Linked DNA regions of Homo sapiens: regions 1, 2 and 3 are each linked to region 4. Evidence: fine-mapped expression QTL. A gene starts in region 4. Each other region holds a variant in brackets. All regions are shown on one strand. Distances are between the middles of the regions. Region 1 overlaps WIPI1 (WD repeat domain, phosphoinositide interacting 1). Region 2 has its middle 26 kb from the start of WIPI1. Region 3 holds the start of MIR635 (microRNA 635). Region 4 holds the start of WIPI1 (WD repeat domain, phosphoinositide interacting 1).

Region 1 (2,500 bases), 21 kb before region 4:
CGCAGGCGCGCCCTGCACGCATCTTTAGGCAACTTCCCACAGCAATCTTGTCCCGCTCAGGGATGCCTCAGAGACCAGAGGGCAGGGAATATGAAACACCTGCACACTGTCTCAGGCTGTGGCATGGGACAGGGTGACACATTCAGGGAGACAACTGGCCCCCTGCTGGCAAGTGGTTTTCATTATGCTGCAGATGTCTAACTTGGCCTGGCCAGCTGGCTTATGGTGAGGTTGACTCACAGCAAGCCCGAGGGGAAATAGTATCACCTTCTCTTGAACAACTCCCCAGTATTGCTTACTCCCACCGCCTCCAGCCCCCGACGGCAGGGCGTCCTTATCTATCTCCTTCCATGACCACACAGCCAAGGCAGGTGGGTTGGCTCAGCCAGGTCACCGTCAACTTACCAGGGAGTTTCCATCATAAAGCACAATCTCCCCTGAAGTCAGGCTTCCAGGATAGGCCAGGTAAGAATTGGAATGGTTGATAGAGAGAGCACATAGACCTGGCAAAGAAGAAACAGAACATGAGAAGCCTGGGGCCAAGGGAGAGATTGCACGGCTGGAGAGGGCATCTGAAAACAGTACAGCTACAGTGCCACCTACTGGCAAGGGGAGGAATGGCTTTGCAGACAACTGCTTTCCGCTGATGATTCTTCTGATTAAGGCTTCCAATAAAGCAACTTCACAGGGGAAGACCTCCTGATTTAACACTGGCTGCGTCCTTGCTACAGTGAAACAATGAGACTTGCCGGGCACAGTGGCTCATGCCTGTAATTCCAGCACTTTGAGGCGGGCGGATCACTTGAGGTCAGGAGTTCCAGACAAGCCTGGCCAACATGGTGAAACCCCATCTCTACTAAAAATACAAATAGCTGGGCATGGTGGTGCGTGCCTATAGTCCCAGCTACTTGGGAGGCTGAGGCAGGAGAATCGCTTGAACCCAGGAGGCAAAGGTTGCAGTGAGTGGAGATCGTGCCACTGCACTCCAGCCTGGGCTACAGAGTGAGACCC[C/T]GTCTCAAAAAAAAAAAAATATATATATATGTGTGTGTGTGTGTGTGTGTATATATTGCTCATTTTTACATTTTACCCCAGGACTCTGAAACAGCATCTACTTTTCTTCCAATTCCATTATCCTCTAGGGTTACAAGAGATTTCCTCAAAACTGAAATAAATCTTCCTATAGTGAAAAGTCAGTACATATTGGTCTTTCTGCAGATGATTATATACTGTTGGCCAGTAACTTCAAGTTGGAGAAGAGGAGCTGCCAAGAACCTATTTAGAAACTGAGAAATTTCAGGCCAGGCAAGGTGGCCCACACCTGTGATCCCAGCACTTTGGCAGGCCGAGGCAGGTGGGTCACCTGAGGTCAGGAGTTCGAGATCGGGCTGGCCAACATAGTGAAACCCTGTCTCTATTAAAAATACAAAAATTAGTCAGGTGTGGTTGCATGTGCCTGTAGTCCCAGCTACTCGGGAGGCTGAGGCAGGAGAATTGCTTAAACCTGGAGGTGGAGGCTGCAGTGAGTGAAGATAGTGCCACTGCACTCCAGCCTGGGTGAGAGTGAGGTTCTGTCTTAAGAAAAAAAAAAAAAGAAACCGAGCAATTTCTGAGCCAAATGCCCTGCCTTGATAAGGGAAATGGGTACCTCCCGAGGAGGAAGTTTATTTGAGGTCTGCGTCTGCAGTCAAGATGGTGTGCCTAGACATTGAGACAAACTAAATAAAGAGGACATTTTGGATTTAAGATGCTTCAATAATATTCCGGAAGAGTAAACAGCCCATCAAACCACTGAACCAACATAAGCTGTTTTTATTTATAAGGGGATTCAAGAAGGGAGCATTTAAGTAAAGGATTTTCAAAACAATGGTTTAGATGAATAGAGGTGCACATGATAGCAGTGAATTCCAGCAATTCCATAGAAACCAAAGTGTTACCAGAAACTTTGAGATCACGCAAGAGAGACATCTCTCTTAAAAAAAAAAAAAAAAAAAAAAAAAGTGACTGGCGTCTATTACAAGTTAGTATATTAAGTGGGTTTCTTCTAAAAGTATAAGAAAAAACTTTAGGTCAGGCTGAAACATACCTCAACTAATCTGCTGAGGAAGGAGAGCAAAGGAAAAAGAAAGTAAACATTTAGAGTTGGAACCTAGGTCTCATTTCCTGCTCTGGCTTTGCTGAGTCCACAGCAGGGCTGTCCTCTTATCACTTGCCATGCATAGCTACGGGAGGAAGTGGCTGAGCCCCGGAACCTTTAACTGCACGTTCTGGCAGCCCTGCCACCCCTTTGGCGATACAAGGTCATTCCTGGCCCCAGCCTTAGAAGAGGCCACTCGTCCATTTCCAGTTTTGCTCTGGAAACCCCAATTCCTCACCCCTTCTGAATTCTTTGCTATCCAAATGAAATTTCAAGAACAGCTAGGCAGGCAGAAGGGATTCTAGTCTTGTGAAACTGGGGAGGGAAGGCAGTCAGGAGATCTGGTTGTCTTGTGTGCTGGGTTCC
Region 2 (2,760 bases), 26 kb after region 4:
TTACGAAGATGTTATTACTCTTTGACAGACAAGGAAACTGAGGCTCAGTTGTTTGCCCAATGACACACAACTGTTGGGAGGTAAAACTGGAATTCAAATACAGTTTCATCTCATTTATATGCTATAATATAGAAACAAGGATTATTGGGACTTTTTTTACGGTGCTGTAATAAGGAAGCAATCACTAGCTTTTCAAGAGGAAAAAAATAAATATTTTAAATGGCAAAGACATTTAGGATTTTAAAATTCCTCTTTGTTTTCAAGTTTTGTACTTCCTTCACTCTGGGGCAATAACCCTAGACACCGGGTGAAGGTTAAATAGCTCATTAAGCTTAGCGTTATCAAACCAAATATTGCCCGTACAATAAAGGTAAAAAGAATGGGCAGAAAAGGAGGCTTTGTGTGTCTATCCATTGGCTCCCTTATCTGTTTTTACTAAGGTCAATCGGTGGACAAAGGAAGGGCCAGATGTCCTCAAATTGCCTTCAGCATATAAACTATTTGCTCTCAGCAAATATATCAACCATTCCCACACTGGGGTGACAGACCACCTGGAGCAAGCTATGAGTTTTCCAGGCAGAAAGTATTTCTTTATGATTCCAGCTTGATGTCTGATCATATCTGGATGTGGCTAATTGTTTGTCCTTAGTTTTGAGGAAGTCCAATTTATCAGTTTTTTTGAACAAATCATGCTGTGGTGTCAAACATAGGAAATCATTGGCTAACTTAAAGTCAGAAAAGAATTTCTTATGTTGTCTTCTACATATTCGTTAGTTTAGCTCTACATTGTGATCCATGATCTAGTTTGAGTTTTTTTTTTTGTCTATGATGTGCATGGACCCAAGTTCATATTGGTTCATACAAATCATCAAATTGCTCCAGCACCGGGCCAGGCGCAGTGGCTCACACCTGTAATCCCAGTACTTTGGGAGGCAGAGGTGGGTGAATCACCTGAGGTCAGGTGTTCAAGACCACCCTGGCCATTATGGTGAAACCCCATCTCTACTAAAAATACAAAAATAAGCTGGGCATGGTGGCCAGCCCCTGTAATCCCAGTTACTCAGGAGGCTGAGGCAGGAGAATCACTTGAACTCGGGAGACAGAGTTTGCAGTGAGCTGAGATGAC[G/A]CCACTGCACTCCAGTCTGGGAAATAGAGCAAGACTCCGTCTTAAAACAAAACAAAACAAAAAAAGCTTCAGCACCATTTGTTGAGGAGGTGGTCCTTTTTCACTGCATTGCCTTCACATCCTTGTTAAAAATCAATTGTCAGGCCAGGTGCGGTGGCTCATGCCTGTAATCCCAGCACTTTGGGAGGCCAAGGCATGTGGATCACCTGAGGTCAGGAGTTCAAGACCAGCCTGACCAACATGGAGAAACCCTATCTCTACTAAAAATACAAAATTAGTTGGGTGTGGTGGCGCATGCCTGTAATCCCAGCTACTTGGGAGGCTGAGGCAGGAGAATTGCTTGAACCTGGGAGGTGGAGGTTGCGGTGAGCTGAATTCATGCCATTGCACTCCAGCCTGGGTAACAAGAGCAAAACTCCGTCTCAAAAAAAAAAAAAGAAAGAAAAGAAAAAAAATCAATTGTCCATATATGTGTGTGTTTGTTTCTAGACTCTGTTCAGTTCATTGATCTATTTGTTAATATTTATGCCAATACCATGTTGTTTTATTACTGGGGCTTTATAATGACTTTTGAAATTAGGTACCATTAGCCCTCCAACTTTGTTTTTGTTATTCTAGGTATTTGTGCCTTTCCTTATGAATTTTGGAATCAGCTTGTCAATGTCTACAAAAAATCCACAAACAACTGCAGGCATTTTTATTGGGATTGCCCTGAAACTATAGAGTAATATGGGGGAGAACTGACATCTTGGCAATACTGACTGTTTTGGCACACAAACAAATTAAATCTATCCATTTATTTAGGTCTTTAAAAATTCATCTCTGTAATGTGTTGTGGTGTCCAGTGTACTGCTCTTGCACATCGGTCAGATTTATCTTTAAATGTTTTGTATTTTTGATAGTATTAGAAATGGGAGTTTTAAATTTAAAATTTTTCATTGTTAGTAGATAGAAATTCAATTAATTTTTTTATTTTGACTTTGTATCCTACAACCTTGCTAAACTCACTTATCGTGGTATCTTTTTTTTTTTTTGTATTCCATCGGGTTTTCTACAATTTTACTTCTTCCTTTCTGATATGGATGCCTTTTATTTCTTGCTTTTGCCTTGTTGAACTGACTAGATCTTCCATTATAATGTTAAATAAGAGTGATGAGAGTGGATGACCTTGACTTGATCCTGATCTTAGATAGAAAGCATTCAGTCTTTCATCATTGAGTAAAATGTTCCAGGTTTTTCACAGATGTCCTTTAACAGGTTGAAAAAGCTCCATTTGGGTCAGTTTTGGAATCTCATCAAATGTAGCAAGAAAGGCTGACAAACAAAGTAGTGTTTTCCATCCCGACAGAGAAAGCAAGTGAGGGTGAAGTCTCAGATTCTGGAGACAATCCAAACTAACAAAATGTCCCTAAATTTGTCATGAAAATAAAAGTGGGGAGTCAAAGGATATTGTTCACTTTCATAGTTCAAGGCAAAGTTAAATGTGCTATGTTCACTTTAAAATGAATGTGTTTTCTGCCACAATGGCAAAGAATTAACAAATTAGCAATTTAGTTTGTAAGAGATCCACGGAATATATTAAGACATTGCAGATGTTATCTGTTTTACCAAGGACTCAAAGAACAACTTGAACT
Region 3 (2,500 bases), 32 kb before region 4:
TTAGGCAGCATGCCAACAGAGGTTTTGAAGTTTATAATTAGTATTTTTAAGAACAACTGCTCTCCGCCACTGAGATATAAACTTCACTTGCCAGCCACGTCTCTGACAACCTGCCTATTGAAAGCCAGAAATGTAAAAGCTCACGCTGCGACCGACCCGCAGAGCCGATGTGGGAAATCACAAAACAACAGCCCCAGCCCTGCATGCAGGGCCCCACCGCAGCTTTGTTTTCTAAGCCAAATGTGCTCACTAGAGGGTTCCACGGATCTGCGGGAGAAAGAAGCCAGACCTGCACTCCATCCTTTTACAATTGGAAGCTCAATGGACACAAAACAATGATCAGGAGAAGTTTCCATAACAAAGCCTAATGGACATTGTTTCAGTGCCCAAGTGGCAGCTCCTCTCTGGCTCTAGGAGCTGATGCTCCAAGTCTTGGCCCAAACACTACTTCCGGCCGGGTGCGGCGGTTCACGCCTGTAATCCTAGCACTTTGGGAGGCCGAGACGAGTGGATCACTTGAGGTCAGGAGTTTGAGACCAGCGTGACCAACATGGTGAAACCCCGTCTCTACTAAAAATACAAAATATTAGTTGGGCATGGTGGCGCACATCTGTAATTGCAGCTACTCGGGAGGCTGAGGCAGGAGAATTGCTTGAACCCAGGAGGCAGAGGCTGCAGCGAGCCGAGATCACACCACTGCACTCCAGCCTGGGTGACAGAGCAAGACTCCGTCTCAAAAACAAAACAAAACAAATCAGTACTTCCATCTCGAAATGATTTCAGGTTGACTATCTGGGATGTTTTGACTGAAGCTCACAAGAGCGGTCTATATGTTACTCCAGATGGGAGCCTGAAGAATCAGCAGTTAAGGAAGCCCCAGCAGGCTCTCAGGAGGGAATCTTGTCTTCAGTTCCAGGTGATGGAAGAAGCCACGCCCAGCACTCAGCCAGCCCCGAGGGCCCTAGCTGTGGGAACAGGCTGAGCAGGTTGCTGGGAAACCCAGCTAAAGGTGCTCGGGCAAGCTCCTGCCCTGCACCTGCTGCCCTCCACAGAGCACACAATTGCTTTTCTTTTCTTTTTGAGATAGAGTCTCACTCTTTCACCTAGGCTGGAGTGCAGTGGCACAATCAGAGCTCACTGCAGCCTCGACCTCCCAGGCTCAGGTGATCCTCCCATCTCAGCGTCCCGAATAGCTGGGACTACAGGCACGTGACACCACACCCGGCTAATTTTTTCTTTT[CT/C]TTTTTTTTTTTTTTTTTGGTGGAGATGGGGTTTTGCTGTGTTGCCCAGGCTGGTCTCTAACTCCTGGGCTCAAGCAATCCTCCAGCCTCGGCCTCCCAAAGTGCTGGGATTACAGGTGTGAGCCACCGCACCCGGCCACTTGTTTCTTAATGAGTGTCTGCAACTGCTGGGGAGGTGCGGGTCTGCCGGCCAGAGCTGCAGGTAAGTGAGGGTCAAGCTGGTTCACAGAGTGCAGCAACTCAGCTCAGAGTCCTGAACACACAGCCCAGCCCTCTGAAACCATCCCCTCCAGCACAAGGAAGGCAGCATTCTGCAAACGCATCCATGGGAGCCTCAGGAAAATAAGTTTTAGACAAGTCACGTGTTCCTACCTTCCAGGCAGCAAAGTCAGTGCTACAGAAGCAAAGTAAGGGATCGCAGGCCTCTGGCTGGAGGGAGGCCACCAAGACTCCCTGGATTAGTATTCGGTGACTCTAATGCCATCAGGGTTTAGCTCGACACCTAAAGCCTACTCTGTAGGATTCGAAGCACACAGTACAACAAATATCCTATGGCTTTCCAAATACTAGAGCAGAGAATTAGTTGTTATAGATTAGAAAACAGGGAAAGGGACTCTGCCTCTCGTATGAGGCGAAGGTTTCCTTCTAAGCACACAGACTGAGCCGCCCAGTTACGGGTTCCTAATGCTCACAGGAGGAAACTCATTCTCATCATCAAGACACACTGGTCCCGTCGCAAACTCATGTTCAGGAATAACTTCTCCTCGCAGCGCCCCGCCGTCCTCAGAATAACCTGGAAACCAAGAAAGAGACATGAAACAAGCACTGGGGATCTGCTTTTATGCCATGACCTGGCGGGTGGGGAGCGGGGGCTCAAATAAAGGGCAAAGGAAGCAAAGGGGCTGTCTGTCTTCCCCCTGGAGGTACTGTGCCTAGGACAAGTCATAATCCTCACCATCTGCCATCTTTAAGCCTGACCTGCCTTTCCACTTCAGATGCCTGAGGCATCCTACCTCTTTGAATTTTTCTTTGTTGAGGTAGGGTCTCAGTATGTTGCCCAGGCTGGTCTCGAACTCCTGAGCCTAAGGGATCCTTCTGCCTCAATTTAACTTCCTGAGTGGCTAGGACTACAGGCTCTTTGGAAATTTTAGTTTAGTTTTTATTTTTTGAAACAGAGTCTCACTCTTTCACCCAGGCTGGAGTGCAGTGGTATGATCTCAGCTCACTGCAATCTCCGCCTCTCTGGTTCAAGCAATTCT
Region 4 (2,715 bases):
TCCCCAGGGCTCGCTTCCATGAAAATAGGGAAAGAAACAGGCGTTTGCCTGTAAGTCACAGAATCCTGCAGATGCCTGAAACACACTTCAGCCCAGCTCCCTCTCAAAGCCCAAATGTGAACATCGAAGTAAAACATTAAAAATCCACTCAAAAACAACAGGGTGGAGCTCCTGTTTCCTGGAGAGAAAGCAGTCTGCGCCCGGGAAAAGAGTCTTGGACTCCGAGAAGGAGATCCTGCCTGGCTGGGTGGGCGATGTGAAAACAGCCAAAGAAATCCAAAGGTTTCTTCCATCCAGAGCGGGCAGGCACGATGCCCTGCGTCGGGGATGGGACAGGGGCTGGCCTGGCCGCAGGGATAGGCTGCCTCTTTGTCCGAGGCCCTGCCCAGATGCCACGTTGAGATGCTCAAGGACAAATGGGAAAGTTTTTCCTGTACTCTCATCTTCCTGGGCCCCAACTACAGAGTCCTGGGTCAACTTGCAACTTCCTCTCCTTTCTCATCTCTTTCTTTTGGCCACTGTCTCTCTTCCCCAGACACCCACTTTGGTCACTGGCTTTCCCACCGCCCTGCTCCCCCCATATTCCGTGGCCCCCGCAGCCCCACCACTCCCTTTGCGAACTCCCTGCTTTCACCCTTGGCCCAACCTTGTCGCTCTGGGAGGACACTGGGAGTGGGGTGGGGTGGGGGGTGCGGCAAACCCCACTGAAGGGGTACGGGGATAACAAGATCCCAATGCGTCCGAAGCAGACACCGGCCCTCCCGCCGAGGCCGCCTCGAGGCGGAAGCCACAAGCTGCTCTCAGGACGACACCCCTGGGTCCTGACACTCTGTCCCCCACCTCCCTGGCAGGGGCCGAGTCGCAGCTTACGTGCAGTCCTGGTTGAAAGAGAAGCAGCTGAGCGCCGACTCAACCCCGCCCGGGGGAGCGTCCGCGGCCTCGGCCTCCATCGGGGGCTCGGCCCGGGAAGCCGCAGCTCGGAGCCGGCGACAGCCACCTCAGCAGCCCGCCCGCGCCGGCTCCACGGGCCGGGTCGCCGGTCCTGCCCCGCCCCTACCCCGCCCCGTCCCCACCCCGCCCCTACCCCGCCCCGTCCCCACCCCGCCCCTACCCCGCCCCGTCCCCGCCGCGTCCCCGGCTTCGCCCCGCCCCTTCTCGCCCCTCCAGCTGGTCCCGAGGACCAGAGCACCTGATAGGGCGGGGCCCCTGCCTCCGGCCACCATTGGCCACGAGCCCAAGCCACGGCTGGCGGGCACCGCCCCCCTTGGCCAATCCGTGGCAGCTGTGGGCGGACCCGCCCGGCTGGCGACCCGCCCCTGGCTTCGTAACGCGGCTCTCCATTGGACAAAGGCGCGTGACGCAAAGGCAGCAGGCCCACGTGGCGGTGTTTTCATTGCCGGAGCCGCCCAGCTGGGAGGGAGAGGGAAGAAGGAATGCGGCTGGGGCCAGATCTGCTGGTTTCAGTCCGGCAACTGCGTCGGGGCCGCCGCAAGGGTGACAGGAGGACGCGCTAGTTCCCACCCCGCCCAGACCCCTTGCCATGTGTAACTCTGCCTATTAAACTTACAGAGTTTAGCAGAGAGCGTTAGACTCCAAAGCCCCACCCTTTTGTCGAGTCCTCAAGCCGCATTGAGAGAAGCTCCTGAAATGGGGCTGCCTCAGCCAGAGAGATAGCAAGTTATCTTATCCATTGCCGAGCGGTTGAGAACCCTCACTACTTGCCAAGCGCGCCGTACTATGTATGTCATCTTGAATTCTTATAAAACTTGTGTGGAAAATACGATTGTGCTCAATATACAGAAGAGGCAACTGAAGCTCCAAAGCTAAACAATTTGTCTAAAGTAACAGTAAATGGTAGAATGTCTGCATGTCTGCTTTCAAGACCTGTGCACTAAATAACTGCTAAACAGTAATTTGCAAAAACAACGTAGCACCTAGCATGCGAGATTCTAGGTTTTCTAACCAGGACAGAAATGACTGCAGCATTTGACGGAGCTGGAAGGTGGGGGGAAGCACCTTTGATCTGAAAAGTTACAAAAATGGCACAAAGTATCTAAACAAGACCTATCCGATCCGCAGCTGAAAAAAATGAAAGTGTGTGTAGGGCAGTGTAGTTTATGAAAGGGGTAACGTCTTGAAGATATAGCACAATTCAAAACTCACGTAATTCGAGATAAACCTTAACAAAGAATCTCTTTTTAAAAGCTGAGTACTGTACATGTTCCCATGCGGAATTACTGTCAATACGGTTTATGAAGCAGGAGCTCTGCCAGCTTTGGATTGTATAACTGCTGATGGATTTTTAATTCATTTTTTCAAATTTTGAGATGATATTTTAGTTATTGTTATATGACAGTCTCTCAAATCAGCATAATTCAAATTTATTAGGTTGGTGCAAAAGTAATTGCGGTTTTCCCCATTTCCCACTTTTAATACCCAGTTTATGACAAAGCTACTTTTATGTATGTGTATATATATATATATTTAACCTTGGACCTACAATAGATGAACAAAGGGCACTATTTCACCTAAACCTTTCTGGTTGGATTTCCGGTTTGTGTTTTCTGAGATGCAAATGTAACAGTTTCTTTTCTCAACTTTATTATTTTTTTCTCTCCACTGATGTAAAAAATAGTTCAGCTCATAGATTCACAGATGTTATTGCTCTTTGGCTGATTGTGAGGTGTTGTATAAACTATCAGAAGTGAATGGAAC

Evidence for each region. PIP is the estimated chance that this variant, and not a neighbour inherited with it, causes the effect.
Region 1: its variant is fine-mapped to the expression of WIPI1 in whole blood (TOPMed, PIP 0.93).
Region 2: its variant is fine-mapped to the expression of WIPI1 in whole blood (TOPMed, PIP above 0.99).
Region 3: its variant is fine-mapped to the expression of WIPI1 in whole blood (INTERVAL, PIP above 0.99).

Annotation. Positions count from the first base shown.
Region 1 is chr17:68,435,977-68,438,476 of GRCh38, forward strand. WIPI1 (WD repeat domain, phosphoinositide interacting 1) reads right to left here. Exons shown (of 13, transcript NM_017983.7): 5 at 406-503. It also overlaps a transcript of ARSG not described here and a transcript of PRKAR1A not described here. Among named protein-coding and RNA genes, the nearest start is that of MIR635, 13 kb to the left of the region's middle. RefSeq lists an enhancer at 64-564 and a silencer at 2,281-2,370. The variant C/T (reference allele first, on the strand shown) is at 1,012.
Region 2 is chr17:68,482,312-68,485,071 of GRCh38, forward strand. It overlaps a transcript of PRKAR1A not described here. Among named protein-coding and RNA genes, the nearest start is that of WIPI1, 26 kb to the left of the region's middle. The variant G/A (reference allele first, on the strand shown) is at 1,127.
Region 3 is chr17:68,424,142-68,426,641 of GRCh38, forward strand. WIPI1 (WD repeat domain, phosphoinositide interacting 1) reads right to left here. Exons shown (of 13, transcript NM_017983.7): 12 at 1,934-2,034. MIR635 (microRNA 635) reads right to left here and starts at 407; the gene lies at 310-407. It also overlaps a transcript of ARSG not described here and a transcript of PRKAR1A not described here. The variant CT/C (reference allele first, on the strand shown) is at 1,241.
Region 4 is chr17:68,456,472-68,459,186 of GRCh38, forward strand. WIPI1 (WD repeat domain, phosphoinositide interacting 1) reads right to left here and starts at 1,025. Exons shown (of 13, transcript NM_017983.7): 1 at 871-1,025. The coding sequence starts at 950. It also overlaps a transcript of PRKAR1A not described here. RefSeq lists silencers at 765-1,444, 1,181-1,467.